Linked DNA regions of Homo sapiens. The protein of the gene in region 1 purifies or fractionates together with the protein of each later gene. This does not show direct contact. Each region holds a gene or a part of one and is shown in the gene's direction. Other genes may lie near its edges. The genes, in order: DNM1, ZFAND3, SH3BP4, RPE, TBC1D2, LSM12 and MYO1E.

What was found.
Region 2: the proteins of DNM1 (region 1) and ZFAND3 fractionate together in Homo sapiens (co-fractionation; one large-scale study listed by BioGRID). This does not show direct contact.
Region 3: the proteins of DNM1 (region 1) and SH3BP4 purify together in Homo sapiens (affinity purification with western blotting; one study listed by BioGRID). This does not show direct contact.
Region 4: the proteins of DNM1 (region 1) and RPE fractionate together in Homo sapiens (co-fractionation; one large-scale study listed by BioGRID). This does not show direct contact.
Region 5: the proteins of DNM1 (region 1) and TBC1D2 fractionate together in Homo sapiens (co-fractionation; one large-scale study listed by BioGRID). This does not show direct contact.
Region 6: the proteins of DNM1 (region 1) and LSM12 fractionate together in Homo sapiens (co-fractionation; one large-scale study listed by BioGRID). This does not show direct contact.
Region 7: the proteins of DNM1 (region 1) and MYO1E purify together in Homo sapiens (pull-down; one study listed by IntAct). This does not show direct contact.

Annotation. Positions count from the first base shown.
Region 1 is NC_000009.12:128,205,813-128,209,878, forward strand, and holds part of DNM1 (dynamin-1), read left to right. Parts: intron 1-4,066. UniProt on the Homo sapiens protein: Catalyzes the hydrolysis of GTP and utilizes this energy to mediate vesicle scission and participates in many forms of endocytosis, such as clathrin-mediated endocytosis or synaptic vesicle endocytosis as well as rapid endocytosis (RE).
Region 2 is NC_000006.12:38,109,331-38,113,396, forward strand, and holds part of ZFAND3 (AN1-type zinc finger protein 3), read left to right. Parts: intron 1-4,066.
Region 3 is NC_000002.12:235,038,801-235,042,866, forward strand, and holds part of SH3BP4 (SH3 domain-binding protein 4), read left to right. Parts: intron 1-2,087; coding exon 2,088-4,066. UniProt on the Homo sapiens protein: May function in transferrin receptor internalization at the plasma membrane through a cargo-specific control of clathrin-mediated endocytosis.
Region 4 is NC_000002.12:210,008,938-210,013,003, forward strand, and holds part of RPE (ribulose-phosphate 3-epimerase), read left to right. Parts: intron 1-719; coding exon 720-799; intron 800-4,066. UniProt on the Homo sapiens protein: Catalyzes the reversible epimerization of D-ribulose 5-phosphate to D-xylulose 5-phosphate.
Region 5 is NC_000009.12:98,221,057-98,225,122, reverse strand, and holds part of TBC1D2 (TBC1 domain family member 2A), read left to right. Parts: intron 1-3,894; coding exon 3,895-4,066. UniProt on the Homo sapiens protein: Acts as a GTPase-activating protein for RAB7A. Signal effector acting as a linker between RAC1 and RAB7A, leading to RAB7A inactivation and subsequent inhibition of cadherin degradation and reduced cell-cell adhesion.
Region 6 is NC_000017.11:44,056,340-44,060,405, reverse strand, and holds part of LSM12 (protein LSM12), read left to right. Parts: intron 1-4,066. UniProt on the Homo sapiens protein: Nicotinic acid adenine dinucleotide phosphate (NAADP) binding protein. Confers NAADP sensitivity to the two pore channel complex (TPCs) by acting as TPC accessory protein necessary for NAADP-evoked Ca(2+) release.
Region 7 is NC_000015.10:59,205,219-59,209,284, reverse strand, and holds part of MYO1E (unconventional myosin-Ie), read left to right. Parts: intron 1-436; coding exon 437-604; intron 605-696; exon of another isoform or gene 697-1,198; coding exon of another isoform or gene 1,199-2,344; exon of another isoform or gene 2,345-2,442; intron 2,443-3,799; coding exon 3,800-3,885; intron 3,886-4,066. Other genes in the region: LDHAL6B (L-lactate dehydrogenase A-like 6B), read right to left, coding at 1,199-2,344. UniProt on the Homo sapiens protein: Actin-based motor molecule with ATPase activity. Unconventional myosins serve in intracellular movements. Their highly divergent tails bind to membranous compartments, which are then moved relative to actin filaments.

The DNA of each region.
Region 1 (4,066 bases):
ACAGCAGATTTCATCGAGTACTTGCTTGTTGAGTGGTGGAGCAAGGTTTGGACCGTGCCCCAGGAGGCCTGGGCCCTCTGGCTGCCCTCTCCACCCCAATGCCCTTGGCCGTTGTCCCCACAGGAGGATGTGCAGGGTGTCCAGATGCAGGCCCAGGGCAGGGGAGGGGGCTTAGGTTGATGTGAAGGAGTAGGCAGAAAAGCATTCATGATCCTCTGAAAGCTAGTGAGAAGGCCAGGGAAACTGAGGCTCAGTGGGTTCCACTGTCTCAGCCTGCCAGCTCCCTCAAGGGCTCCTGACCTCTCCAACAGGGCTCAGTCCCCAGACTGGTGAGCATAGTAACAGCCATTCTGTCTCCTGGGGCTTCCCAGGAGCCAATCCCCAACAGAAAATGCTTCACAGGAAAATGCATCAGGGCTGCCCCAGGCCCACCCGGGCTTCTGGGTGCTCAGGAGGATCCTGCTGTCAACTCTGCAATGGAGGTAGCCTTGCAGCTGCCTGGGATGCTGCTAGAACTTGTCTGGGTCTATACTATTTCTTCACCCCCTTCCCTTTTACAGAAGGGAAAACTGAGGCCAATTCATTCAGTCATTTAGCAAACATTTGTGGAGGGTGCACGATGTCTCAGCACTGGGGATTCTATGGTGGAAAAGACCAAGACTCTGCACTGCAGAGGGAGAAACTCAGAAGACAACTGGAAAATGTGGTGAACGTCAGGGAGGGGAGTGGGGCTGCTCTCCCCAGGGAGGTCAGAGGTCTCCAGGAGGAGGTGGCATCTGAGATGAGAACCAAGGGATGAGAAGCTGTGTAACTTGCCAGGGGCGGGAGAGTTCCAGGCCAAGGGAAAGGTGCAAAGGCCCCGGGGTAGCAAAGAATTTGGTGCCTTTGAAGAACAGAAAGGAGACCCTGTAGCTGGTATTCAGCTAGCAAGGGGGAGACAGGACCTGAGAGATAGGCAGGGGCTAGATCTACAAAGCCCTTAGGCCATGAGGAGTGAGGAGTTTGGGTTTATTTTCTCTCTTGTGGGAAGCTTTTTAGTAGTGGAGTGATGAGCTAATTCTAGCAAGGGTGTGACTTGGGGAGCGGGTGAGGGAAAAGGCAGGAGACTGGTGGGGAGGCTGCTGCAGTGGGCAGGGGGTAGTGGGGGGCCTGGACAAGGGCTTCAGCTGCAACCAGAAGGAGAATGGTGGGTGGGTTTCAGGATATATTTTAGAGGAAGTCCTGCTGGAGGATGAATGTGGAGGGTGAGGAAAGAGGAATCAATGATGACTTCTGGGACTTTGACCTGAGCTCCTGGGTGGGTGTTGGTGCCATTAACAGAGTCGGGAAGAGTAAGGAGGAGCAGACTGGGGGGATGGGGGAAGACCAGGGTTTGGTTCTGAACATATTGAGCCTGAGATGCCTGTTAGACTTCTAAGTGGAAGATGTCAGCTGGCAGTTTGGTGATGCAAGTTGAGAGCTCAGGGGGAAGACGGGCTGGAAGTAAAAATTTGGAAGTCGTTGGTGTAGAGATGGGATTTAAACCCGAGAGTAGATGAGCTCATCCTGGGGGTAAGTGTAGATGGGGGAGTGTTTGTGGACCCAGCACACACCAGCCTTTCATGAACAGATGCCTGGTGCCCTAGGCCAAAGGGGCCTCCTCGCTGTCCCTCCAGCTCCTCTTTGTCACCCCCGCCCCGCTACACCCCCCACCCCAGTGCTCCTCTAGGGCCAAGAGTGGGTTGTCCTAGGGCAGGCCAAGTCTGGTGGGAATGTGGCAGAGGGGCCGAGAGCATGGTGTGGAGTCAGACCTGCCGAGTATGAAGCTCAACTCTGCCACTTACAAGCAGAGAAACCCTGGGCATGTTCCCCAAACCCTGCCCAGCTGCTATTTCCTCATCTGTAAAATGGGGATAATAATAGCACATCCCTTGTGAGATTATGGTGAGTGTTGAAACAATCCCCAGGAAGCACTCGGGGCAGGGCCTGGCATGGAGGACGCGCTGCTTCTATCCCTGCCTGGGCGTAGACAGGCAAGCCCTCTGGGATGGCGTGGGCTGGGAGGTGCACCAGGATGGGGGCACGGGTTGGGGATCTTCTCCATCCAGGGTAGGGTAGGGGTCCTGAGGAGCGACCCTCTGCCCAGAGCCGAAGGAGCAGCCTGGGAGGAAGGGTTTTAGGTTTCCCCGTAACTCTGCCTACCCCCCACCCCCAGGCTTTCTGTCTCCCCCAATGCCCTTGTCCCTTCCTCCCCATTCTTTTTTTTCTTTTTTTTTTCTTTTTTTGAGATGGAGTCTCACTCTGTCACCCAGACTTGGAATGCAATGGCGCGATCTCAGCTCACTGCAACCTCCACCTCCCAAGTTCAAGTGATTCTCCTGCCCTAGCCTCCCAAGTAGCTGGGATTACAGGCATGTACCACCACGCCCGGCTAATTTTTGTATTTTTAATAGAGATGGAGTTTCATCATGTTGTCCAGGCTGGTCTCAACTCCTGACCTCCAGTGATCCACCCACCTCAGCCTCCTAAAGTGCTGGGATTACAAGTGTGAGCCATAGCACTCAGCTCTCTGCTCTGCATTCTATCCCAGCATGGACGTGATGCTGGTCTCTGGACTCTGAGAGCCCTTCTCTTTGTCAAACCTAGCCTTTCCCAGGGGAGACAGCCCCCTCCCCACTATTAAGCTCTGTCTCTTCCTCTGAACACACCAGGATGCATCATAGTGGTCCCATTTCTCAGATTTGGAGATGGAGGCCAAAGTCTATTAGGGGATAAATGAGACATCCTAGGCAGAGTATCGATGACCTGGATGGGGCAGAGGGAACTAATATTTCCTTGGCACTTGCTGTGTGCCAGGCCCTGAGGATACAGTTGTGAGTCAGCCAGACCCATCCTGCTTGGGGAGGCTTGCGGCTGATCGGGGCAGACAGACATGAAATCCACAAAGAGCACGTTTGTCGTGTATTTTGAAGGAGGCTGCTCCTGCGTTGCAAGGAGCCTGACATTGAGGGGAGGGGGGCTTTCTGGGCCATCAGAAGGCCTCCTGAGGAGGTAGCATTTAAGATTGGACCTGAGCAAGACTAGGACGTGGTCAAGCCAAGGTGTGGACTTCCGCAGGTGCAGGGACTGTCCTGAGCAAAGAGTTAGGGGGAAAAGAGCCCAACGGGTTTGAGAACCCGGATGAAGGATGAAGGGCAGTGTGGCTGAGTGAGGAGCAGAGGCCAGAGGTGAGACTAGGAGGGTTGGGGAGGCGGGGCTTGAGGGGCCTGTTAGGGGCCCTTTGACACCCCCCCACCCACCTGGAGAGCTGCCACACTCTGCTCCAGCCTCTGCATGCTCAGAGCACGCAGCTGCCACGTGCTAAGCACACACTGCCTGTGGGCCACATGTGGAGCACACCCCTGGGGCTGGAAACATGGAAATGCACCCATCCACAGCCAGAGGACATCCTCTCCAAACCCACACCCCACCGTGGCCCAGAGGAGCTGGGAGTGAAAGGTGACCCTGGCAGACAGCATCTGATCTCGGCGCCAGGAGAATTGAGTTTCCCAGGCCCTGGCTGGGTCAGAGGGTCGGACCCAGGGAAGGGGGTGCAGGTGGGAGAGTGGAGAGGGTGGGCAGGGCAGGAGTGGAGGAAGTGGGTCATGGACACAGTGCTGTCAGGCGTGGAGAAACGGACGCCCACATGCCATATGTCTATGTATTCCAGTTATAAATCAAGCTGAGGAATTGCTAAATGCAATACATTCTGCCCTCCCACCATAACAAACACACCTTCATCACAACCTGACCAGCTGGGTTTGAATTCAGAATTTCAGACTCCTTGGAGTTCCGTGGTGGATGTGGAGGCGTGGGGACAGGTGTCCCCTCTCCGCAGGCTGCCCCGTCATTTCCCTCTTTATCCCTCCAGGGTTCACTTGTGAACACCCCAGCCCTCATATCCCAGCTCCAGAAAGGACCCACCTTGGGCCTGGGCTGGTCCCCACTTGGGCCTGGGCGGTGGGCTTGGAACTGCTTGAGAGGGAATTCTGGGGCATCTGAGCGTAGCCTACGAGGGGAGCACAGGCTTCAGCTGGGCACCTCCCCT
Region 2 (4,066 bases), on another chromosome or scaffold:
CGCCACTACCAGCTGATTTTTGTATTTTTAGTAGAGACAGAGTTTCACCATGTTGGTTGGCCAGGATGGTCTCAATCCCTTGACTTCGTGATCTGCCCGCCTCAGCGTCCCAAAGTGCTGGGATTACAGGCGTGAGTCACTGCGCCCAGCCTGCCATGACTTTCATTTAAGATTGTTCTATTTGATGGAGAGCTGTTCCCCCATGGCCCATTAGCTTCTCCTGCTTGATCTTTTGATGAGTTCATAGTCACTTGTTTCTGGTATCATGGTGTACCGCCAAAATCAGCTTCCAAGTTCCTGTGCACCAGAAATGGGAAGGGAAGATGGGCTGTGAGGAAGTGAAAAACCTAATCTCAGTCTTTAAAACATACCTTTGGGGTTTTGGGTACTCATCTCCTGAAGGGCATATGATAATTTTATTATGACTCCTGACTTCTGTGTGTTCTGCGGCTCTTTAAACTGTCTTCTAGTCAAAAATGTCTCCGCAGAAGCAGCTTCTGCGTTGCTATCCGGAGGACCAAAATCTGATTGGTAGATGATAAGAGTTGGCCCCAGGAAGATTTCTGATGCCGTATGTTTTTTGAGCATACTAAGGACAAAGACCTCAAAGCTCAGGTGCACTCCCAAGATGGTCAGCCTTCCTGATCAGCCATTCCAGATTTCCCAATCTTGTGTTCCCAGGAGGAGAGGGAGACTAATGCTTAGGAATTATACTGCCTGGCAGTTTGTGAACAACTGACTTTTTAAATGTTTATGATCTAGGACATGGCATCCTAGGAGTATTTCAAGCTAGATTCGTCTCCATATCAAATGAAGATGATGGCATTCTCCACAAAATTTTAATAATCAGCCTCTTGAACCTTGTTCTCTGTCCACACAATGGCTTTTCAACAGATGTGTTACTCCAAAATTATTTTAGGGTCATTGGGAACATTAAGAAAGGAAGGGAAAATTTCAGTCAAATGAGGTGGGAATTTTTTTTTAATGGGTAGCAAGGTGTTTTCTCAAAGTCTTTCATGGCACACAGAGTAAAATGTCAGGAGAAGATGAATCTAATCCCAGCATATACCCCGAAAGCAAAGCATGAGGAGAAACACAGAAAGTACCTGTAAAGCAGGTTTTTTTCAAGTCTCTTTTATCAGTTTTTCCAGTGAGAGTGTGGTATTTTTCGTGGACAAAGGTTTTACCAGCTAAAAGCTCCTTTTAAGTGGTCGAAGGAGAAACAGCAGTGATGTGTGAGGGTTCGTTAATTATTGCTCTTACTGATGTTTGCACAGGCTGTTGGGATCATAAATGTCAATCTGTCAAGAGACTGATAGGTTCTAAAAAAACTGATTGAGTACCTCAAGAGCTGTCATAGAGCCTGAGATTAAACAGATTCATCTTTCGTAGAAGTAAGGGACGGTGTGGGTGAAGGGAATAGCAGAAGGCTTTCTTCTCTTTGTTGCCGCATTGCTTCTCCCACTCTCCTATTCTGTATTGTGAGTGTTGGCTTGTACGGAGGCCTAAAAGCCTGTCTGCCTGAGATGTCAGGAAGCCACAGCCATGGTTAGTGCACGGGGTGTGTGCAGGCTGCCAGCTGCAGGGTGACAGGAGATTAAGAGAGATTGAGATTCAGCTTTGACAGGCATGACACAATTTATTTGGAAATTTTCAGGCGGGAACATGAGTAATAAAGACAAGAATGACAGTAAGGAACAAATGTGAATTTCTGCCAGAGACAAAACAGAATTTTAAAAGAAGTAGCTCTGTTTGTTGTCTCCAGTTAAGCTTTCCAGTTAAACTGTGTTCTTAAATTGAAAGTCTTAACACTACTTTCTGAGACTGGCTAGGAAAGTACAATTAGAAGAATTCCTCTCTTCAGAAGATTCCATGTCTTTAAAATTACTGTACAACCAGCCCACCATATCCATGGGTTCCACATCTGTGGATTCAACCAACCATAGACTGAAAATATTTGGGAAAAAATGGATGATTGTGTCGTACTGAACATGTAGTTTTTTTGTCATTATTCCCTAAATAATACAGTATAACAACTATTTACATAGTGTTTATATTGTATTAGGGATTATAAGTAATCTAGAGAAGATTAAAGTACAGTTGATGCTTGAACAACATGGGTTTCAACTGTGCAGGTCCACTATGCACAGATTTCCTTCTGCCTCTGCCATCCCAGAAACTGCAAGACCAGCCCCCCACTCCTCCTTCGTCTCCTCCTCAGCTAGTCAGCGTGAAGACAACAACGATGAAGACTTCGATGATCCACTTTCACTTAAGGAAGAGAAATTGTGTTTTCTCTTCCATATGGTTTTCTTAATTTTTTTTTCCTGTAGCTTACTTTATTGTAAAAATACAGTATGTAATACATAAAACATGCAAAATATGTGTTAATTGTCTGTGTGTTATCAGTGAGACTTCTGGTCAGCAGGAGGCTATTACTAGCTAAATTTTGAGGGAGTCAGAAGTTATATGAAAATTTTCAGCTGTAACAGGGGTCAGCGCCCCAAACCCCATGTTGTTCAAGGGTCAGCTGTATACGGGAGGATGTATGTAGCTTATATGCAAATACTTTGCCATTTTATATAAGGGACTTGAGCATCTATGGAATTTGGTATCCTTGGGGGGTCCTGGAACCAATCTCCCTTGGATACCGAGAGACGGACTGTGCAGTACTTGTCTCTCTGTCGAAAATTAAGCGCAGTTACTTTCAAACCAAGAAAGCTAAATAGGCAAAATCCTTCTTCTTAAGATTTTCCTTCCTTATTTAATCACATTATGATTCTTGATCAGACTTTCCTTTGACTAGATCTGATGTGATATCTTTCTCATTCTATTAAACATTGGCAGAGAAAGCAGGGGTCTGGTGAGTACCAAGAGTTGTGAACGTGGAATGGGGGAGCGGCAGCTCTGTGTGGGTATATCTACTACACTAGATTATGTTCTCAAGTAAAAGCATACTGGAAAAAAAGAATCTGCTTTGTTGGCCCTTTATGAAGGACCTTAATTAGAAGTCACTGTTAACTCCTGGGGTGGGAATGGTTTCCAGCTTGGCACGGGAGTTCCTCCTGCTACTAATGAGCATGCTCCTTGCAAGGACTCGCTGCTTCTGACAGTTAAAGCTGCATTGTAAGAGTTATTTCTTGTCACCTCTCTCTCCACATTTAACTGTTACTGCCCAAGTTCAGAGTATGTAAGTAGACTGTTAGGTGTTTTCAGGAAATTGGCAATGCTTCACGGTAACAGGGAATGATATTTGTGAGTAAAAGTAAATCATTACAGGTTAATTTATTCAAATATGGGTAGTAGATGGTTGCTTTAATGTCAACCATGTTTGGATTTTTTTTTCCTGGTAGTCTTTTTCTAATTGACATAAAACTTACAAATGAATAGTTGAATTATTTAATTCATTATCATGTCGTTAGAACCCCTGCCCTGGACATCTGTTTCTCTTATTTAAGCAACTCGCCCTGTGGCACAAAGGTTTCATTAACTAATTAGCAGAGGAAATGTAAATTTCTTATGCAAGTGAGGATGATTCTATAGATTACTATTTATTTCATTAGCTTCTCATTAAAACACTAAGTTGACTTGTGAGAAAATGCCGGAGAATGGTTTGCTTCTCGAAGAAATTACACATACACAGTCACCTTCTTGGGCAATAGCTTGTGGAGGATAGTGAGCAGTTTTGGAAGCTTATTTACCCTCGCTCTTGGTGGCAGGGAGCATTAGAGAGCATCTAACAGATCTTCATCTAGGGAAGGGTAAGTGGGCATATTCCAGAGCTTCAAAGGTGTGGATCTCTTGCTATCTGGAATAGTTCTTTGATTCTAAAACATAACACATTCTGTTAGACATTTCTTCTGCCTTGCTTTAGAATCATCTAGCATTGCTTCCTGGGGCCCAGACTTCCTGTACATGGATGCCTTTGGTCATAGACTTGTACGGATGCTGGGACATTGATTGTCAGAGGATCGAGTAGGGCTTAATGGTGTTCTTTTAGGATGATCAGTATATCATACCAGAAGCTGTGGCAGCATCAGAAACCTCCTTTAGGATTCATTGTTCA
Region 3 (4,066 bases), on another chromosome or scaffold:
CTGCGGTTTCTCAAATTCCTCCAGCTTAAAATATGTGTGGTGCTATATTTTGGGGTAGCATGTTCTGAACCTCATCAGGTACATGATGTAGTGGTTGGTGGTAAGAGCTATGGAAAAAGATAACATTGGGGCCAGGAGATGTCTATTTCACATAACATCCTGTGTGTCCTCAAGTTGGGTCAAGCAATATTATGACAAGTGCCTTATCTACGTCTTTGCATTTTGTCCTCTCCAAAGCTCATTGAGGAAATACACTTTTTGTCCACCATGAGTGGAGTCTTAGGCTCTGGAGATCACACAGTTTCTAAGGGCTCCACTCGAGTCTGGGTTTAGTGATCCCAGAGCCGGGTTCTCTGAGACACCCAGATAGACGGGCCTGCTGTAATTTCACAGGAGGAGGTAGGTGGGGCTTCAAGGCCCAGGGATGCTCCCAGCTAAGCGCATCTCTGTAACCCAGTTAATGTAAATGAATAGAAACTGTCTACCTGATTTCCTAACACTTTCCCAAGGAAGTGTGATTATTTCCTTTCAAAGGAAAAGGAAACTGGCAGGTGATTTTCTGGGGTCGGGGGGGCAATTTGATAGAATACGATGACTGTGGACTTCATCACATTAGAAAAGATGTAGGTTTAGTTTAACTAAAAACGGATTCCTTTCTTTGGTCATTTGCTTTGGCAACTTAAAAAAAAAAAAGAAAGAAAGAAAGAAAGAAACGTTTCCTTTCTTTCTTTCAATTGTTTATTACGGGAAGCCAGAATGTCAGCAGACTCCGTAAGTGAGGCAGTTTGGGAGGTGGGGGAGGGGAGTCCTGGGGAGAAGTATATGTGCTTATTTTCTTCAGAAAGAGTGTTCTTCATCTTCTGAATATATCTTCTCATTTAATCATATCCATTATTTTTCAAAACACACCACTTGTTTGGCTGACTTATTTTTGCTGTTTCATTTGCCGTCTACATTGGTAACATACAGAGTTCAATGGCAGGAGCCATGAATTAACTTGATTCACTTTTTGAAGGGTTGGAATTTTTCAGACTGCTTCAACACTTGTTCAATGATAGTATGAGCTATGACTAGGCATAATCTCTCATTTTCAAGGTATGTAGACAGTCTGTTTTCATGTTGTGATTTTGAATGATAATTTAAAAGAGGTTGGGCCAGGCGCAGTGGCTCACACCAGTAATCCCATCATTTTGGGAGGCTGAGGCGGGAGGATCACTTGAGGTCAGGAGTTTGAGACCAGCCTGGTCAACATGATGAAACCCCATTTCTACTAAAAATACAAAAATTAGCCAGGCATGGTGGCACACACCTGTAATCTCAGCTACTTTGGAGGCTGAGGCAGGAGAATCACTTGAATCTGAGCGGCTGAGGTTGCAGTGAGCTGAGATCATGTCAATACATGCCAGCCTGGGTGGCGGAGTGAGACACTGTCTCATAAATAAATAAATAAATAAGTAAAATAAGAATAAAAGAGGTTGGAAGGAACTGACTTCAGAATTCTTACTTTATCTGAGGAAACAGTTTGGTGAGGAACAGGTTGAGTTTGGAAATTTAAGAAGCAGGTTGAGGGAAGCTTTCCATCCAGAGGCAGAGCTTGGAATCAGCTCATACATGTCATTGCGGGAGTTTTTGGAATCTGTTCATTTCCAGTCCCTGATCACATGCAGTGGTCACCTAACTCACCGTGTCACCGTGTTTTCTAAGTTAATCACATTCAGTTTCTCTTTGTATCTAGTAGCAGTTCTTTTAAGAAGAATTTTAACGTTGCCCAAAATGAGATGTTTAGGGCGTAGGGCATGTTAAATATTCCATTGCACTGATTTGCCTTTCTGTGAGTGATGGAGAGGCTCCTCTGTGGTCTTTCTGCCGGACATAGGCTGTCGATTTTGAAGGTGACCAAGTAGCAGGAACCAGTTCGTTGGCCAGGTAAATTACCTACTGAATTTCACTTTGGTTTGTTTCTGTTGGTGACTTGCCTGGGTTATTGTGCACCTGTCTGTTTACCACCGTCCTCTCTCCTTTGGGAAGCTCTCCGGACACCCCGCCGGCCTTGCCCTCACCATCTGTTTTCTTTGTGTTTTGCACAGTGCCTTCTCCCAGTGCCTTGCTCGTAGACAACCCCACACCTTTCGGAAATGCAAAGGAAGTGATTGCGATCAAGGACTATTGCCCCACCAACTTCACCACACTGAAGTTCTCCAAGGGCGACCATCTCTACGTCTTGGACACATCTGGCGGTGAGTGGTGGTACGCACACAACACCACCGAAATGGGCTACATCCCCTCCTCCTATGTGCAGCCCTTGAACTACCGGAACTCAACACTGAGTGACAGCGGTATGATTGATAATCTTCCAGACAGCCCAGACGAGGTAGCCAAGGAGCTGGAGCTGCTCGGGGGATGGACAGATGACAAAAAAGTACCAGGCAGAATGTACAGTAATAACCCTTTCTGGAATGGGGTCCAGACCAATCCATTTCTGAATGGGAACGTGCCCGTCATGCCCAGCCTGGATGAGCTGAATCCCAAAAGTACTGTGGATTTGCTCCTTTTTGACGCAGGTACATCCTCCTTCACCGAATCCAGCTCAGCCACCACGAATAGCACTGGCAACATCTTCGATGAGCTTCCAGTCACAAACGGACTCCACGCAGAGCCGCCGGTCAGGCGGGACAACCCCTTCTTCAGAAGCAAGCGCTCCTACAGTCTCTCGGAACTCTCCGTCCTCCAAGCCAAGTCCGATGCTCCCACATCGTCGAGTTTCTTCACCGGCTTGAAATCACCTGCCCCCGAGCAATTTCAGAGCCGGGAGGATTTTCGAACTGCCTGGCTAAACCACAGGAAGCTGGCCCGGTCTTGCCACGACCTGGACTTGCTTGGCCAAAGCCCTGGTTGGGGCCAGACCCAAGCCGTGGAGACAAACATCGTGTGCAAGCTGGATAGCTCCGGGGGTGCTGTCCAGCTTCCTGACACCAGCATCAGCATCCACGTGCCCGAGGGCCACGTCGCCCCTGGGGAGACCCAGCAGATCTCCATGAAAGCCCTGCTGGACCCCCCGCTGGAGCTCAACAGTGACAGGTCCTGCAGCATCAGCCCTGTGCTGGAGGTCAAGCTGAGCAACCTGGAGGTGAAAACCTCTATCATCTTGGAGATGAAAGTGTCAGCCGAGATAAAAAATGACCTTTTTAGCAAAAGCACAGTGGGCCTCCAGTGCCTGAGGAGCGACTCGAAGGAAGGGCCATATGTCTCCGTCCCGCTCAACTGCAGCTGTGGGGACACGGTCCAGGCACAGCTGCACAACCTGGAGCCCTGTATGTACGTGGCTGTCGTGGCCCATGGCCCAAGCATCCTCTACCCTTCCACCGTGTGGGACTTCATCAATAAAAAAGTCACAGTGGGTCTCTACGGCCCTAAACACATCCACCCATCCTTCAAGACGGTAGTGACCATTTTTGGGCATGACTGTGCCCCAAAGACGCTCCTGGTCAGCGAGGTCACACGCCAGGCACCCAACCCTGCCCCGGTGGCCCTGCAGCTGTGGGGGAAGCACCAGTTCGTTTTGTCCAGGCCCCAGGATCTCAAGGTCTGTATGTTTTCCAATATGACGAATTACGAGGTCAAAGCCAGCGAGCAGGCCAAAGTGGTGCGAGGATTCCAGCTGAAGCTGGGCAAGGTGAGCCGCCTGATCTTCCCCATCACCTCCCAGAACCCCAACGAGCTCTCTGACTTCACGCTGCGGGTTCAGGTGAAGGACGACCAGGAGGCCATCCTCACCCAGTTTTGTGTCCAGACTCCTCAGCCACCCCCTAAAAGTGCCATCAAGCCTTCCGGGCAAAGGAGGTTTCTCAAGAAGAACGAAGTCGGGAAAATCATCCTGTCCCCGTTTGCCACCACTACAAAGTACCCGACTTTCCAGGACCGCCCGGTGTCCAGCCTCAAGTTTGGTAAGTTGCTCAAGACTGTGGTGCGGCAGAACAAGAACCACTACCTGCTGGAGTACAAGAAGGGCGACGGGATCGCCCTGCTCAGCGAGGAGCGGGTCAGGCTCCGGGGCCAGCTGTGGACC
Region 4 (4,066 bases), on another chromosome or scaffold:
TGCCCGCCTCAGCCTCCCAAAGTATTGGGGTTACAGGCGTGAGCCACTGTGCCTGGCTGGTAGACTTAATTTGAATCCACTTCCACAAATTATTAACTGAGTTACTTAAGGATTTTATTTATCTTGTGCTCTTCAAAGGGGATAATAATAGCATCTACTTTGTAAGGCTGTCGTGAAGATGAAATGAAGTAAATTACGATGCTTGGCATGTAGTAAACCCTCGGTGAAAGGTGGTCGTTACTAATAAACACATCATGTTTCTTTATTAGTCATCTTTAAGAAAGTTTAAAGAAACTGTCATTTAGTGCCTTGTGATAGAAGTGATTAGAAGTAGCCACAGGCCTCCTGAGATAGACTAGGATTCAGGAGATCAATATTAGAGTCCAGAACTTACTAACTAGTGTGTGACTTGGGCAAGTCATAAAGCCTGAGGGTTTCTGATTTTATCATCTCTCCATTTCTACTTGTCATGGGTCGTGAATTACGGAGTCAAATCATTATGAAAATATATGTGACGTGATTTGTTGAAATGTCAAGGAGACATTGCCTAGTAAAACCAAAATGACCCATTATTTTTAGTATTATTTAATACTGATGATTAAGTATTAAATTGAAAAACATTGCAGACAATCCCCTCAACCTGTGTCAGAATTCATATTGAGAGAGATACAGAAACTGAATTGAAAACATTTTCAGAGTAGATTTTGTTTGTCTTGTAGGCATTTTGTTCCCAACATCACCTTTGGTCACCCTGTGGTAGAAAGCCTTCGAAAGCAGCTAGGCCAGGACCCTTTCTTTGGTAAGTGGGTGTTACGCCATCTGAAGCTGGATGTGTTGCTCAAGTAAAGGAAAACTGGATGGTTGATTTTAACTTCCAAGTTCATCTGGCACCCTTTCCCCAACTTTCCTATCCTGGGTCTTCATTGGCCTGACTCCAGTAACAAGCCAAACTTCTTCCTGCCTCTGGGCCTTGGCTAATCTGCATGGAAAGGTAGTAGCTTGGCTGGCTGCCTCATCTTTGGGCCTCAAGTCATTTGTCATTTCCTCAGAGAGGCCTTTTTGAGCGTCCTCTCCCAAATTAACCTTTATCCAATTATCTTATCACCTGTTGATTTTCCTCTGAGAACTTCCTTTGATCTGCGATTACTTTTATTAGACTATAAACTCTCTGAGGGCGGGGATTGAATCCAGTTTGTTTACTGTGGTTTTCCTAAAGCTAAGCATAGACATGATCAGGGCTCAGTGTAATTGTTAAGTGAATTTATGAATCAGTTGATTTATGGTCCAGAAGCCATTTATTTTGTGCAAATTGGAGCTTTCTACAAGTGGTGCCTAAATATTCACTCCAATGTCCTAGTACAATGTAAATTAAGATTTTTAAGATTACTTAGTGGCCTACAAGTGATTTATGTTAAGTTAGCAATGTCTCACCTGCCAGATCTCTTAAACATGAGAAATTTTACACATTTTTATAAATAGTGTTATTTATTTTTTTCTTTTTTTTAAAATAGAGACTGAGTTTCGCCATGTTTCCCGGGCTAGTCTCAAACTCCTGGGCTCAAGCAATCCACCTGCCTTGGCCTCCCAAAGTGCTAGGATTACAGGCTTGAGCCACCAGCCTAGCCATAAATAGTTTTTTTAACGTAGCTTACAATTTAGTAGAACTTAGATTCTTTTTAATCAGCATATTGCTGACCAGTTTTATGAAGGACTCTGTGCTGTTCACTATGGTAGTCATAAGCCACATGTAGCTATTAAAATTAAATAAACTTAAGTTCATGACCAGAATGGCCAACATGGTGAAACCCTGTCTCTACTAAAAATTCAAAAATTAATCAGGCGTGGTGGCAAACACCTATAATCCCAGCTACTCAGGAGGCTGAGGCATGAGAATCACTTGAACCTGGGAGGTGGAGATTGTAGTGAGCTGAGGTCATTCCACTGCACTCCAGCCTGAGTGACAGTGTGACACTCCATGTCAAAAAAAAAAAATTTTTTTTAAATTAAATAACATAAACTTAAAAATTCGGTTTCTTATTCACGTTAATCACATTGCAAGTCTTCAGTAGTCACATATTGTACAGTGCAGCTATGGGACATTTCCAATATCACAGAAAATTCTGTTGAATATAGTCTCCAGCCTCTGTGTAGGATCTATCTACTTTGAGTTCACCAAAGAAAATGTACATTATTACCTCATTTATGTGGCATGAGGAAACAATGTTCCACCAATATATTCACCATTTTGAAATTTCCATATAATGGGATATAGTCCTCTGATTATCTAAACTTTCTTTTAAGCCATGATTAGCTTATATAGCAGATACCGTGACTTTTCCTATGAATTACGGTTGTTCTCATGACCATGAGAGGTAGATGAAATAAATAGCATTGTTTTCTCCCACTGTACAACCAATGGCCAGAATCCTCGCTTCTGGCTTGCTTGTGTGAATTTTTTTAATGCTTGCTTTTTTTCCCCTTTTCGCTCCCTTTTATTTGGGCTCCCATTGTCACACCATACTATTGTCTATATCCCTTCCTGTCAGTGCCTTTCCTTTTAGCAATCCTGTGTTGCTGCCACCACACACAATCTGCTTTTTCTTCTTGTTTTTAATTTGTTGATAAACTTGCTAATTAATCTTTCTAGAATTTGGTCTAAAAGATAAATGAACTCCATTCACTTTAATGTTTGGGTTTTGTGACCCTTGTTTTTTGGTTTTTCGCTTTTTGTTGTTGTTGTTGTTGTTGCTTTAAGAGACAGACTCCGTCTATTACCCAGGCAAGAGTACAGTGGTACAGTCATAGCTCACTGCATCCTTGAACTCCTGGGCTCAAGCAATCCTCCCGCCACAGCTATAGCTAAGACTACAGGTGTGTGCCACCACAACCGGCTATTTTTTTTTTTTTTTTTTTTTTTTACTTTTTGTAGAGATGGGATCTCCCTGTATTGCCCAGGCTAATCTTGAATGCTTGGGCTCAAGCCATCCTCCTGCCTTGGCTTCCCAAAGTGTTGTGATAGTAGGTGTAAGTCACTGAGCCCGACTACCTTTGTTTTTTATATTGAGAAACATTTGTTTAATTCTTGGATTTTGGTTGTTGGATAATTGATACATGAATGTATTCTAGGACCTAGATTACATGTTGTGTTGTATATGTAACGCTAACATTCTTAACTGTTCAGTTTTCATATTGAGTAGAAATAAATGTCTAAGAAATACAGTGATGGGAAAAGTCTGTTCCTGTTATTGTCTAAATCAGTGATCCTCAAGTATGTTGTATAAGGACCCACACAAATCCTTAAGACCCTTTCGGGTCATCCATGAGAGTATATCAAAACTATTTTCATAATCCTAAGAAATTATTTGCCATTATTTCTACTGATGGTACAAAAACATTGATGAGTTAGTTTGCTGGTGCCTTAACCAACTCAAGGCAGGGACTGTATCAGGAGTTATTCTTCATCATCATGCATTTGCAATAAATATCCTTGATGAAGCAGTAGAAATTAATAAATCTTGGTCCCTGAATACATGCCTTTTTAATATTTTGTGTGGCAAAGTAGGAAGTGCATATAAAGTGCTTGTGCTGCATTGCTGCATACTGGAACATAATGGTTTTCTCAAGGAAAACCACTTGCACCATAGAGGTGTGATCTGAACTAGCTGCTTTCCTCCAGAACACTATGTTTGTTTGAAAGAACAACTGACAGATCAACTATGGTTTTTCAGACCTGGCTATTTTAATGACATTTAAAAAATATTAACTAAATGAGGCTGTCTCTTCAAGGAAAGATACCTTGTCAGTTTTTGTTCCCAAAATTAGAATTTTAAAAAACTTGTGTATCTTACCACTCTGGGTTTGATAGCGTCCCAACAGTTAACAAGCTTTTCTGATGAGATCTGTAGTTATTTTACCAAATGTGATTTTGGGGTACTATGGAATGAAATCTGTCACTATTTGTAAGATGTGTGTAACTCAGTAAATCAGTACTTAAAAGACCCATTCAAAATACAAGACAAACAATGGGTTTTAATGTAACAAAGAATGAAAAGCTCATTGATAGGGT
Region 5 (4,066 bases), about 30 Mb from region 1:
CCACCTTAGTTCAATCAGGATTACTGGGTAAAGGAACGTAATTTTTTAGGAAACTCAGTGGGGCAACGTATAGCCTCTTACTTTCCTAGAACTCCAGCCAAAAACTTCAGAGGACATGAAAGAGGGCTGGGAGGTACCTTGGCCATGTCAGCTTGGGGAGGGACACTTGGCACTTTCTCTTTCATGCTAGAGGCAGTTCTGAGCAGAAGAGGAAGCTTTAGCCCCATTCATGAGAAAGCTGAGGTTCAATGAAGAGGCCACCTGAGCTACCCTCCTTAGAGTCACCTCGTTAGATACACCCCCCACGGATCCAGAATGGGAACCGAGGCCTGTGCAACTCCAAAGCCCATGCCCCTTCATCTGACCCCTGTAGGGCCCACCACTGATGAAAGTAGCAATGCTCTAAAAAGATAAAGGATTATTTTTTAAAGATGATTTATTGGCTTTTAAAAATTTAAATAAAGTGACAACTTATGACCACGTATCAAAATCTGAGATGAACCAAACAACTCGATTGAGAAATATTAAAAGTACCACTTGGGCCGGGCATGGTGGCTCACACCTATAACCCCAACACTTTGGGAGGCCAAGGTGGGAGGATCTCTTGAGCCCAAGAGTTCAAGACCACCCCGAACAACATAGGGAGACCCTGTCTCTACAGAAAATAAAATAATTAGCTGGGCAATGTGGTGCATGCCTGTAGTCCCAGCTACAAGGGAGACTGAGGCAAGAGAATCTCTTGAGCCCAGGAGGTTGAGGCTGCGGTGGGCCGTGATTGCGCCACTGCACTCCAGCCTGGGCAACAGAGTGAGACCCTGTCTCAAAAAAAAAAAAAAAAAAAAGAAAAGAAAAAAAAACACTTCAAAAAGCTTAATTTCATCAACCCCTCTATTTTTCTTTTCTTTTCTTTTCTTTTTTTTTTTTTTGAGATGGAGTCTCGCTCTGTCGCCCAGGCTAGAGTGCAGTGGTGCGATCTCAGCTCACTGCCAGCTCCGCCTCCCGGGTTCACACCATTCTGCCTCAGCCTCCTGAGTAGCTGGGACTACAGGCACCCGCCACCACGCCTGGCTAATTTTTTTGTATTTTTAGTAGAGACGGGGTTTCACCATGTTAGCCAGGATGGTCTCGATCTCCTGACCTCGTGATCCGACCGCCTTGGCCTCCCAAAGTGCTGGGATTACAGGCGTGAGCCACCACGCCCGGCCCAACCTATTTTTAAGAATTGGTCCTAAGACATTGCTTATAATCCAGACTTTAGGTTTCTTGAATTCATGACATTCTCACTCCTCATCTTACAAGTCCTACTGAGGCTCCCTCCCTCTGCCCTGGTTCCGTTCTTTTAAGCCTATTTTATTCTGGTACAAGAATTCTGGGGGTGGGAGGAGAGCCTCCTGGGCTGGTGTCTCAGTCTTAGATTCTGGGAGCCAAATGCGGGAAGGAGACAGCTAGATGTAATGAAATAAGCTTCAGAGTCAACTAACTCCCCAAATTGAGGGAAAGACACCCACTGGTCCTGCTCCTAGGGCAAGTCTGAACAATGATGTCTGTTGGTTATTTCCCTGGGCAGTCATCCAAGGTAACCTCCAAATCTCAGCTGAAGCAGAAAATGGCCTAGGCCCCCAGTTTTCCTGGAACCACAGGAATGTTAATCTCTCTCCACTGAGCCCTGAGAAGCTGACTTCTTCATTCTGGACGTTCCAAACATTCCCTTTTGGTTTGCAATCACTGTGCTGTCCTCACCCCAACTTCCTGCCACACCCCAGGGCTCCCACAGCTCCATGGTAGCTCTTTCCTTCCTCCAGGTCTTTACTGGGGCTGTAGCTTGGCCACATCTGGAGGGCCATCCCCACCCTCATCTCCCACCTGCTGCTCGACCATCTCTGGCCCTTCTCATTCTTCACAGTTTCTTTTAAATGCTCTGGACTGGTATTCCCCACAACCTCCACCCCAGACAGAAGTCATTGCCTTTCCCACAAACACCCTTGTTCCCCTGACTTGCAGTAGATCATTCCACTGTGGTGGGTCATGTTCATTCCCACCAGCCTTTGCAGTCCTTGGAGGTGGGAACTCTCACCACTCCCTCTCTGGGCCACGGCACCTGGCTCAGGGCCTGGCCTGGCACCGAGTGGTGCTTGGTAAAGGTTGGATGGATGGATGGGCATGTGGAAGGAAAAGAGAGAACCAGAGAAAGGATGGTCACTAGTCCTAAGGTTTCAGAAGATGCAGGCTAATGTGGTCTTGTCATTAGCTTCTCCAAAAAAGTCATGGTTTTTGGCAGTTTTCCTCCAATATAGAATTGTTCTTAGCAAATAAGGCTATCCAGCCAATCCACTCATTTTAATACTTTGGTGTGGTATAGTTGACATGTCTCTAGGAAACCATGTTTTTCCAAATGAGAAGCACAGAGCAGGGCAGTGTTGCCTGAAAGTCATACCTACCTGGTATTAGTTCCACGTGGACCTGGCTGCTGATGTCCTGATCCTGGCCCAGAACAAATTCACATCCCTGCTTTGGGACAGATAGGCCTGAGTCCAGGCGTGGCCCTCCCTGGGGAAATTACAGGCTTAAAGGCACAGGGAGCTGAGCAGACCTTGAGTTCCTGTGTGAATTAGTTGCCCCTGCTGAGGAATAAATCAAGCTCTATTGTTTCTGAACTTTCTAGAGTTCCTTCCACCAGCTTTGCAGGCATCGGCTGGTGGGCTGAAGGTAACTAGGCACAAATGGCTTGAATGAGGTCCTCTGTGTGTGGCTTTACATGGGGATTGCCAGTGTATTTCCTCTTTAACCCTGACTCAACTTGATTGGTAGTGACTGGCTGCTATATTGAGAATGATTCTGAGGCCTCAACTAGGGTAGGCTGTGCAGGAAGAAGTATGGGAGATTAATTAGTGATGTCTGCCACAGGGATGAGAGGGAAGAGTAATGCCACATAGCTGCCACCCCTGGTTTTCTTAGTTACTGAGCACAGGCTTTGGAATCTAGCCAATTGAGATTGAATTCCATTCTACTCTCTGCTGGGCCTCAGTTTGTTCATCCCTGAAATGGATGTGTATATGTCAGGGTATGGGTTCAGCTGCTGTGACAAAAACATCTCCACTGGGTGTGGTGACTCATACCTGTAATCCCAGCACTTTGGAAGGCCAAGGTGGGCAGATCATTTGAGTCCAGGAGTTTGAGACCAGCCCGGCAACATGGCAAAACCCCTTCTCTACAAAAAAATACAAATATTAGCCTGGTGTGTTGGCATGTTCCTGTGGTCCCAGCTACTTGAGAGGCTAAGGTGGGAGGATCAGCTGAGCCCAGGAGATTGAGGCTACAGTGAGCCATGTCTGTGCCACTGCACTCCAGGCTGGGTAACAGAGGGAGACGCTATCTCAAAAAAAAAAAGTTTCAAAGCACTGTGGCCCAAAACGAGTGAGAGGTTTCTCATTCACATTAAAGAACCCAGAGGTAGGTGAGCAACTCTGAGCTGGGGGGCAGCCCTTTCTCAACATGTACCTTCTGCTGTGGGTCTGAGGCGGCCACTCTAGTTCCTGCCACTTCCCAGCCAGAAGCAAAGAGAACTGGACCAGAGGAGCGTGTATCTAGTGGTTTTAAAGGTAGGACCCAGAAGCTGCCCATCTCACTTTTCATTTCCCATTTAGGCAGAATAGTTACTTGGCTACACCTCACCATGGCTTGGCTGGGAGATGCAGTTTTAAGCTGGGGAACCATGTGCCCAGCTAACAGTCACTTGAACAGAGAAGGAGAAAGTGAGTGTCAGGATGAGATGCCGCAGGGATGCTGCTGGGCACCTCTCACGGTTGTTAGGAGAACTACTGATAACATATACCCCACTGTGGCGCCCAGCAGGCCCTCCCTGAGCTCACAAGATTCTTCCCTCTCCCTGCCCAGGAGCTAGTGAAGATCCTGCACAAGGCACTGGAGGCCGCCCAGCAGGAGAAGCGGGCGTCCAGCGCATACCTGGCGGCGGCTGAGGACAAGGACCGGCTGGAGCTGGTGCGGCACAAAGTGCGGCAGATCGCGGAGCTGGGCCGGCGGGTGGAGGCCCTGGAGCAGGAGCGGG
Region 6 (4,066 bases), on another chromosome or scaffold:
TACTGCTGAAAACAGCTATTTCGGGCAGCTATTAACATGTTGCATGAATGACGTGAAAAGTTAGTCTCATTTTTAAGATCACGGACTTGAGTTTTTCTTAAGATGGAGGATCATTTAAGCATATGGAAGGGAACTAATGTACTCTGGGATGTCTGGAAGAAAACTGTTGAAGTTTCAGTTGCTTGCAGTCTGGAGAAGCACTAGCCTACTCTATTTATTTTATTTTATTTATTTATTTTTTGAGACGAAGTCTTGCTCTGTCGCCCAGGCTGGAGTGCAGTGGCGCCATCTCGGCTCACTGCAAGCTCCACCTCCCGGGTTCATGCCATTCTCCTGCCTCAGCCTCCCGAGTAGCTGGGACTACAGGCGCCCGCCACCATGTCCGGCTAATTTTTTTGTATTTTTAGTAGAGACGGGGTTTCACCATGTTGGCCAGGATGGTCTCGATCTCCTGACCTTGTGATCCGCCCGCCTCGGCCTCCCAAAGTGCTGGGATTACAGGCTTGAGCCACCACACCCGGCCTACTCTAACTTTAGTCAAAGGTATCATCACATATTGGCCCATCTTGCTGACATAGTAAGTGATCTGCTTAATTAAACCTGTTGATAAAAACCGGATATTTGTTGACTCTGACCTAGCAGGAAATGGAAGAGAAGGGCTTATACAGGAAATACTTAATAATAGCTCAACTAGGGAAGGTATAAACTAGCAACTTCTTGGAAATTGGCCTGTTTTGCTTTCGAATGATAGTTCACTTCAGGCTAAGAAGTCTTATTTCTATCTCCAGCAGTAGCATGTAAGAGGAAGCTTGAGAGAGGACAGTAGGGTTGCAGTAGGGGGAATTCTTTTTTTTGAGACAGGGTCTCAGTCCATTGCCCGGTGTGATCTCGGTTCAAGCGATTCTCCTGTCTCAGCCTCCTGAGTAGCTGGGATTACAGGCGCCTGCTGCCACCATGCCCGGCTAATTTTTCTATTTTTAGTAGAGATGGGGTTTTGCCGTGTTGACCAGGCTGGCCTTGAACTCCTGACCTCAGATAATCCACCTGCGTCGGCCTCCTAAAGTGTTAGGATTATAGGCGTGAGCCACTGCACCTGGCCAAGTCCCCTGTTTTTCTATTACTTTGTGTTTAGCCCAAGGAACTCATAGTTTGGCAACATGAAGTACCCTGAATAATGTACAATGCTAAGTTATGTTTCGTGTGTGTGTGTATGTGTGTGTGTGTGTTCTGTTTTTTAGAGATATAGTCTCATTCTGTTGACCAGGCTAGAGTGCAGTGGCATGATCATAACTCACTGCAGCTTCGAACTCCTGGCTCATAGCCTCAAGTGATCCGCCCAAGCTTCCTGAGTAGCTGGGACTACAATCTCCCATCACCACACCTGGGTGGTTGTTTTGTTTCTTTTTAGTTAGTCTCGCACTGTGCCCAGGCTGGAGTGCAAATGATGCAGTCACAGCTCACCGCAGCCTCGACCTCCAGGGTTCGCTCAAGTGATCTTTCCACCTCGCCTCCCAAGTAGCTGGGACTACCGGCACAAACCACCACACCTGGCTAATTTTTCTTTCTTTTTTGAGATGGAGTCTTGCCCTGTTGCCCAGGCTGGAGTGCGGTGGTGCCGTGATCTCGGCTCACTGCAACCTCTGCCTCCTAGGTTCAAGCAATTCTCCTGCCTCAGCCTCCTAAGTAGCTGGGATTACAGGCGTGCGCCACCATGCCTGGCTAATTTTTTGTATCTTTAGTAGAGATGGGGTTTCACCATGTTGACCAGGCTGATCTCGAACTCCTGACCTCATGATCCACCCGCCTTGGCCTCCCAAAGTGCTGGGTTTACAGGCGTGAGCCACCGCGCCCAGCCTAGTTTTTTTTTGTAGAGACAGGGTCTTACTGTGTGGCCCAGGATGGTCTGTAACTCCTGGGCTCAAGCAATCCTCCTTCCTCGGCTTCCCAAAGTATTCGAATTACAGGTATGAGCCACTGGCCCAGCCCCTAGGTAACGTTTCTAAGTAAAGAAAAACATCTATGTTCTGTGGTCAGGGGCAGGGTAGTCTAGTAGAAAAGACTTAGGAATGAACCAAGTAGATCAGTCTTTAAAGTCATTAGACTTGGCAGATGTTAGTTAATGTCTCCCAAATTATTATTATTATTATTATTATTTATTATTTTTTTTTTGAGACGGAGTCTTGCTCAGTCGCCCAGGCTGGAGTGCAGTGGCGCGATCTCGGCTCACTGCAAGCTCCGCCTCCTGGGTTCACGCCATTCTCCTGCCTCAGCCTCCCGAGTAGCTGGGACTACAGGCGCCCACCACCACGCCCAGCTAATTTTTTTGTATTTTTAGTAGAGACAGGGTTTCCCCGTGTTAGCTAGGATGGTCTCAATCTCCTGACCTCATGATCCCCCCATCTCAGCCTCCCAAAGTGCTGGGATTACAGGCGTGAGCCACTGTGCCCGGCCCAGATTTTTTTATTGTAGCTAACTAATGCTCATTGAATTATGGGATGAGATAAGGCAGGGGAAGGAGGGCATTGTGACAAAGGGCCCATAGAAGATTTATGCCATTACACTAGGCTCTCACTTAACGTCTTTGGTAGGTTCTTGGAAACTTTGACTTTATGTATTATTATTATTATTATTACTTTGTTTTTTTTTTGAGACAGAGTCTCCGTCTGTCTCCCAGGCTATAATGCAGTAGTGCTGTCTCAGCTCACTGCAACCTCTGCCTCCCAGGTTCAAGCAGTTCTCTACCTCAGCCTCCGGAGTAGCTGGGATTCCAGGCATCTGCCACCACAGCTGGCTAATTTTTGTATTTTTGGTAGAGACAGGGTTTCACCATCTTGGCCAGGGTGGTCTTGAACTCCTGACCTCATGATCCGCCCACCTCCGCCTCCCAAAGTGCTGGGATTACAGGCGTGAGCCACTGTACCTGGCACATTATTATTTATTTTTTTAAGATGAAGTCTCACCCAGGCACGGTGGCTCACGCCTGTAGTCCTAGCACTTTGAGAGGCCGAGGCGGGCGGATCACGAGGTCAGGAGATCAAGACCATCCTGGCTAACATGGTGAAACCCCGTCTCTACTAAAAACGCAAAAATTAGCTGGGCGTGGTGGCATGTGCCTGTAGTCCCAGCTACTTGGGAGGCTGAGGCAGGAGAATGGTGTGAACCCAGGAGGCGGAGCTTGCAGTGAGCTGAGATCGCGCCACTGCACTCCAGCCTGGGAGACAGAGCGAGACTCCGTCTCAAAAAAAAAAGAAAAAAAAAGTCTTACTCTGTTGCCCAGGCTGGAGTGCCATGGCTCTATCTCAGCTCACTGCAACCTCCGCCTCCTGTGCTAAAGCAGTTCTCCTGTCTCAGCCTCCCGAGTAGCTGGGAGTACAGGTGCGCCCCACCACGTCCGTCTTATTTTTTTATGTTTTTGAGACAGAGTTTCACTCTTGCTGCCCAAGCTGGAGTGCAATGGCACGATTACAGCTTACCACAACCTCTGCCTCCCGGGTTCAAGTGATTCTCCTGCCTCAGCCTCCCAAGTAGCTGGGATTACAGGCATGTGCCACCCCACCTGGCTAATTTTGTATTATTAGTAGAGAGGGTTTCTCCATGTTGGTCAGACTGTTCTTGAACTCCCGACCTCAGGTGATTTGCCTCGGCCTCCCAAAGTGCTGGGATTACAGGTGTGAGCCACTGTACCAGGCTGTATTTTTTTTTTTTCTTTTTTTGGAGAGGAGTTTTCCTTTGTCACCAAGGCTGGAGTGCAGTGGTGCAATCTCAGCTCACTGCAACCTCTGCCTCCTGGGTTCAAGCAGTTCTTCTGCCTCACCCTCCTGAGTAGCTGGGACCACAGGCACACGCCATCATGCCTCCCAATCTCAAGCAGTCCTTCTGCCTTACCCTCCTGAGTAGCTGGGACTACAGGTGTGTGCCACCACGTCCAGCTAATTAAAAAAAAACAATTTTTTGTCAGTTGGGGAGTAGAGACATGGTCTTACTATACTGCCAACGCTGGTCTCAAACTCCTGGCCTCAAGTGATCCTCCCACCTCAGCCTCCCAAAGTGGTGGATTTACAGGAGT
Region 7 (4,066 bases), on another chromosome or scaffold:
CTATGTGAAAAAGGAAATGCATTATAGAATGTGTACACTAAATAACTACCGAAATGATGCCTATATGGGTAACACGCTGAAAGAGAACATTAAGAAATAGATTAGGTCAAAGGAAAATGTTTTTACTTTTGGATTCTTAAGCAAGTCAATTTGGCATGACTATGAGTGAGCAGATAATGATCTGTGCATGACTCTTGGATAAAACTTCAGGGAGTTAAACAGCTTTTTGGAAAGTGGAGTTTCCTCCCTCTTTAGATCTAAGTGGTGACTCCCTATTTGGGACTATTAATTGCATTCTTGCCTGAAGGGGAATACTGACTTTCAAGATGGTATCTTAAGTCTGGGGAGCTGTTTCCTTGCCTAAGAAAGGACCTGATAAGCATTGTCTGTTTTGGAGAGGTCAGTGACTAGGGCCTTGCCTTCTTGCTCCCATCAGAACCCTCCTGGCATCATGAGCATCCTGGATGACGTGTGCGCCACGATGCATGCGGTGGGTGAGGGGGCAGATCAGACGCTGCTCCAGAAACTTCAGATGCAGATTGGGAGTCATGAGCACTTCAACAGTTGGAACCAAGGCTTCATCATTCATCATTATGCTGGGAAGGTATGGCCAATATCCATTTTAATGTCTATCTGTTTTAAGCCTTTGGGTTTGTGATCTGGTTTCTCATGAAGCAAATCATATGGCTCGCCGTATTTTATTGATTCAACAAACGGAATTTATTAACTATCAAAGGAAGCAAAACAAAAGATTGTATATACTACTGCATTTTTTTGTATGTACATTTATTTTTACATTGTAGAAGAAGCTACTACTTTTTTACAGCATATAAATGAACATAGGTATAAACCAGCAAGAATGAAAGAAATAGCATATATCTAATGAAAAGAGTCGGAATTTCTAGAACACAATAAATACCTACATCCTACTTTTTGGGAACCAAATGCCAACTACATATATATAACATGGCAAGTGCTGCTACATCAGAGGTACCAAAAATACTTAGGAATTGTAAATAAGTATCGTCCAGCACGTGGATGCTCAATAAAAGAGCTGGAGGACTAAATAAATAGGAAAATCACTCTACCTACTTTCCTGTTTCCATCTTTTAGGAATTCAAGTTTATTCAAAATTTCGTTATATAATCCTGTATCTATGATCTCTTCAATAATTTCGGAATGGTAGTTTTAGGCAACTTTAAAGCTTAAGCTTATTCTGAATTTCCCAGAGTGTTTTTGCACTTTTTTTCAGATGGGCCTCTTCTTCAGGGGTCAGCTTTATCTTTATAAGGTTGGTAATACCGTTCTCTCCCAGGATACAAGGAATACTGAGGAATACTTCTTCATCTATTCCATAGAGGCCCTTAATTATGGTGGAAACTGGATGTATTCTCCTAAGATTCTTCAAAATACTTTCTGTTAAATCGGCCACAGATAGGCCAATGGCCCAAGAAGTATAACCTTTCATTTTAATAATCTCATAGGCAGTTGCAGTCACTTCTTTGTGGACATTTTTCCATTGCTCAGGATCTTTATCAGTTCCTATATCAGAGTTCAGATCCTTCAAAGGGACACCAGCTATGTTCACTCCACTCCACACAGGAACACTTGAGTCTCCATGCTCTCCGAGGATCCATCCATGGCAGCTTTCAGAATGGATACCAAGCTTTTGTCCAATCAAGAAACGAAAACGAGCAGTATCCAGATTACAGCCGCTTCCAATAATACGGTTTTTGGGAAATGCACTCAACTTCCAAGCTACATAAGTTAAGATATCCACTGGATTGGAAACAATAATCAGTTTGCAGTGGGGGCTGTACTGGACAATACTGGAAATCATTAACTTGAAGATGGCCACATTTCGCTGGACTAAATTAAGGCGCGTTTCTCCCTTTTCTTGGCGTGCACCTGCTGTGATAATCACTAGGTTGGAGTTTGCTGTGACAAAGTAATCTTTGCTACAAACAATATTTGGCATTTTCGTGAAAGGGCTGCCATGTTGAAGATCCATCGTCTCACCCTTCAGTTTGTCTTCATCAAGATCCACAAGGGCAAGTTCATCACTCAAGCCTTTTAATAAGATGCTGATAGCGCAGGCCATGCCCACCGATCCAGTTCCTATGATGGAGACCTTACTGTGATGAACGGGCTTCTCGGAAGTGAAACGCTCAATAAGCTCACTCTTCACAGTCGCCATCTTGCTCACGGGGGTGAAGAGCCAGGTGCCGTTGAGCGGGATGCGCGTTGCTTGACGCGGACACAGGGCCATCCCCAGGCATAGGAAATTCGCTCCCACCGAGCTCACTCTCTGGCTGGCCCGCACAACAGGCACAGTCCAACTCATGGCTGCTCACTGAAGAAGTGGAGAGAGAGAATGGAAAAAAGCTGCTGATCCGAACGTTGAGACGCCAAGAGAGCCGTTGGCAGGACCTTCAGCACTCTACGGCAGGTGCGCGTGCCCCGCCCCCTGGCCCTCTACTGCGGCTGCGCGGGCCTTGCCAGAGTCTCCGACACGTGCTTTCCGTGGGTGCTCAGACTAAGGCAGTGAAGGGCTGCTTCTCTAGCAAGTGATTTCTGGAGTTAGTTTTGCTAAGAGTATTATCAATAGTTGACATGCTTAAGAGGCTAACCGAGATCCCTGGAATTACTAGTTTTTTATTTTTAATATGAATGCTGAGGAAACATGCTTCTGTTAACTACAGATGAAAATAAGGTTACGTTTTCTGAACCGTGACCCTGCCAGGAAGGATAGGGCTCTATGCTTTGCGTACTGGTGGCTGCCTGCACCATCTCCCAGTGTCCCAGAATTGGGCGCCTGCTTTCTGGTCTATGGCGCTGGAGGCCTATTTTGAAAGGATTCCACTGCCTTGGTGCCAGTCCTGGCCAGGACCCACCCTGGGACAGTCGGCTGGGGCTTCAGCAGGGTAGGGGCCGGCTGGGAGTCACTCCAGCACTAAATCTCAGCATACTACTGCATATTTTTGGAAAATGAATCACCCTGCTACATGTATTAGCTGCTGAATAAATGGATTTTCGTCTTGCCTCTTGCTGGAATCACAGACTGGCATTCCTTGTCTCCCCATGCCTACTGGTAGTATAAATCAAGGCCCAGAGTGCACTTTTGGTGTTCTTATAAAGCCCATCAGTATTGGGTGCCTACTGGATGCCAGGCTGTGTGGGGCTGCTGATGATAAAAAAGTTAAGTTGAGGTCGTGGTCTTGGGGACTTCCTAGTGCTATGGAAATCCCCTGGTCTCATCCATCATCCCAGCTGATCTCTTGTTAAACAGAGTATCTGAGCATGAGTTTCTGGCCAGATTGGTGCAACTTTGATACCACTTCTGGGAGAAACTGCAAAGCCTCAGATGACATGGCTCATTGCAGTGAATTACTGAGCATGAGGGGCTTCACTTTTGCTCTGGCTTAGCTAAAATTTAGGAAAAGTATTGAGTATGTCACTTAGACACCCCTATGGATCCACTGAAGAAGGGGTATGGGGACTTGAGAGCTGGAGTTCTGATTACGGATCAGCTGGGCCATCCAGGCAGCCAGATACTCATCAGCATCTGCAGGCCTTCCCCACTAAGTCAGCTAACAAGTAAGACGTGCACAGCCTTCCTGTGACAGTGCACAATGAAATCCCAAATGCAACATCTGGAAATCCACATGTTGTGGTGAGGGTAGCCATGACAGCTTTGGTTTTTTGTTTGGTGAAATTAGATTTTTTGTTCAATAAATGATTTTGTTCAATTAATTACATTTTGTTCAATGAAATTCGATTTCTTTCCATTCTTGGCCAGGTATCCTATGACATGGATGGCTTTTGTGAAAGGAACCGGGATGTGCTTTTTATGGATCTCATCGAGCTTATGCAGAGCAGCGAGCTGTAAGTATGTTTTGCCATAGCTGACAGGGGATATAGGTTTGATGAAATTTTCAATATGAAAACAAACTTATGAGCTGGGTGTGGTGGTGTGTTCCTATAGTCCCAGCTACTCAGGAGGCTAAGGCAGGAGGATCACTTGATCCTAGGAGTTTGAGGCTGCACTGAGCTGTGATCACTCCTG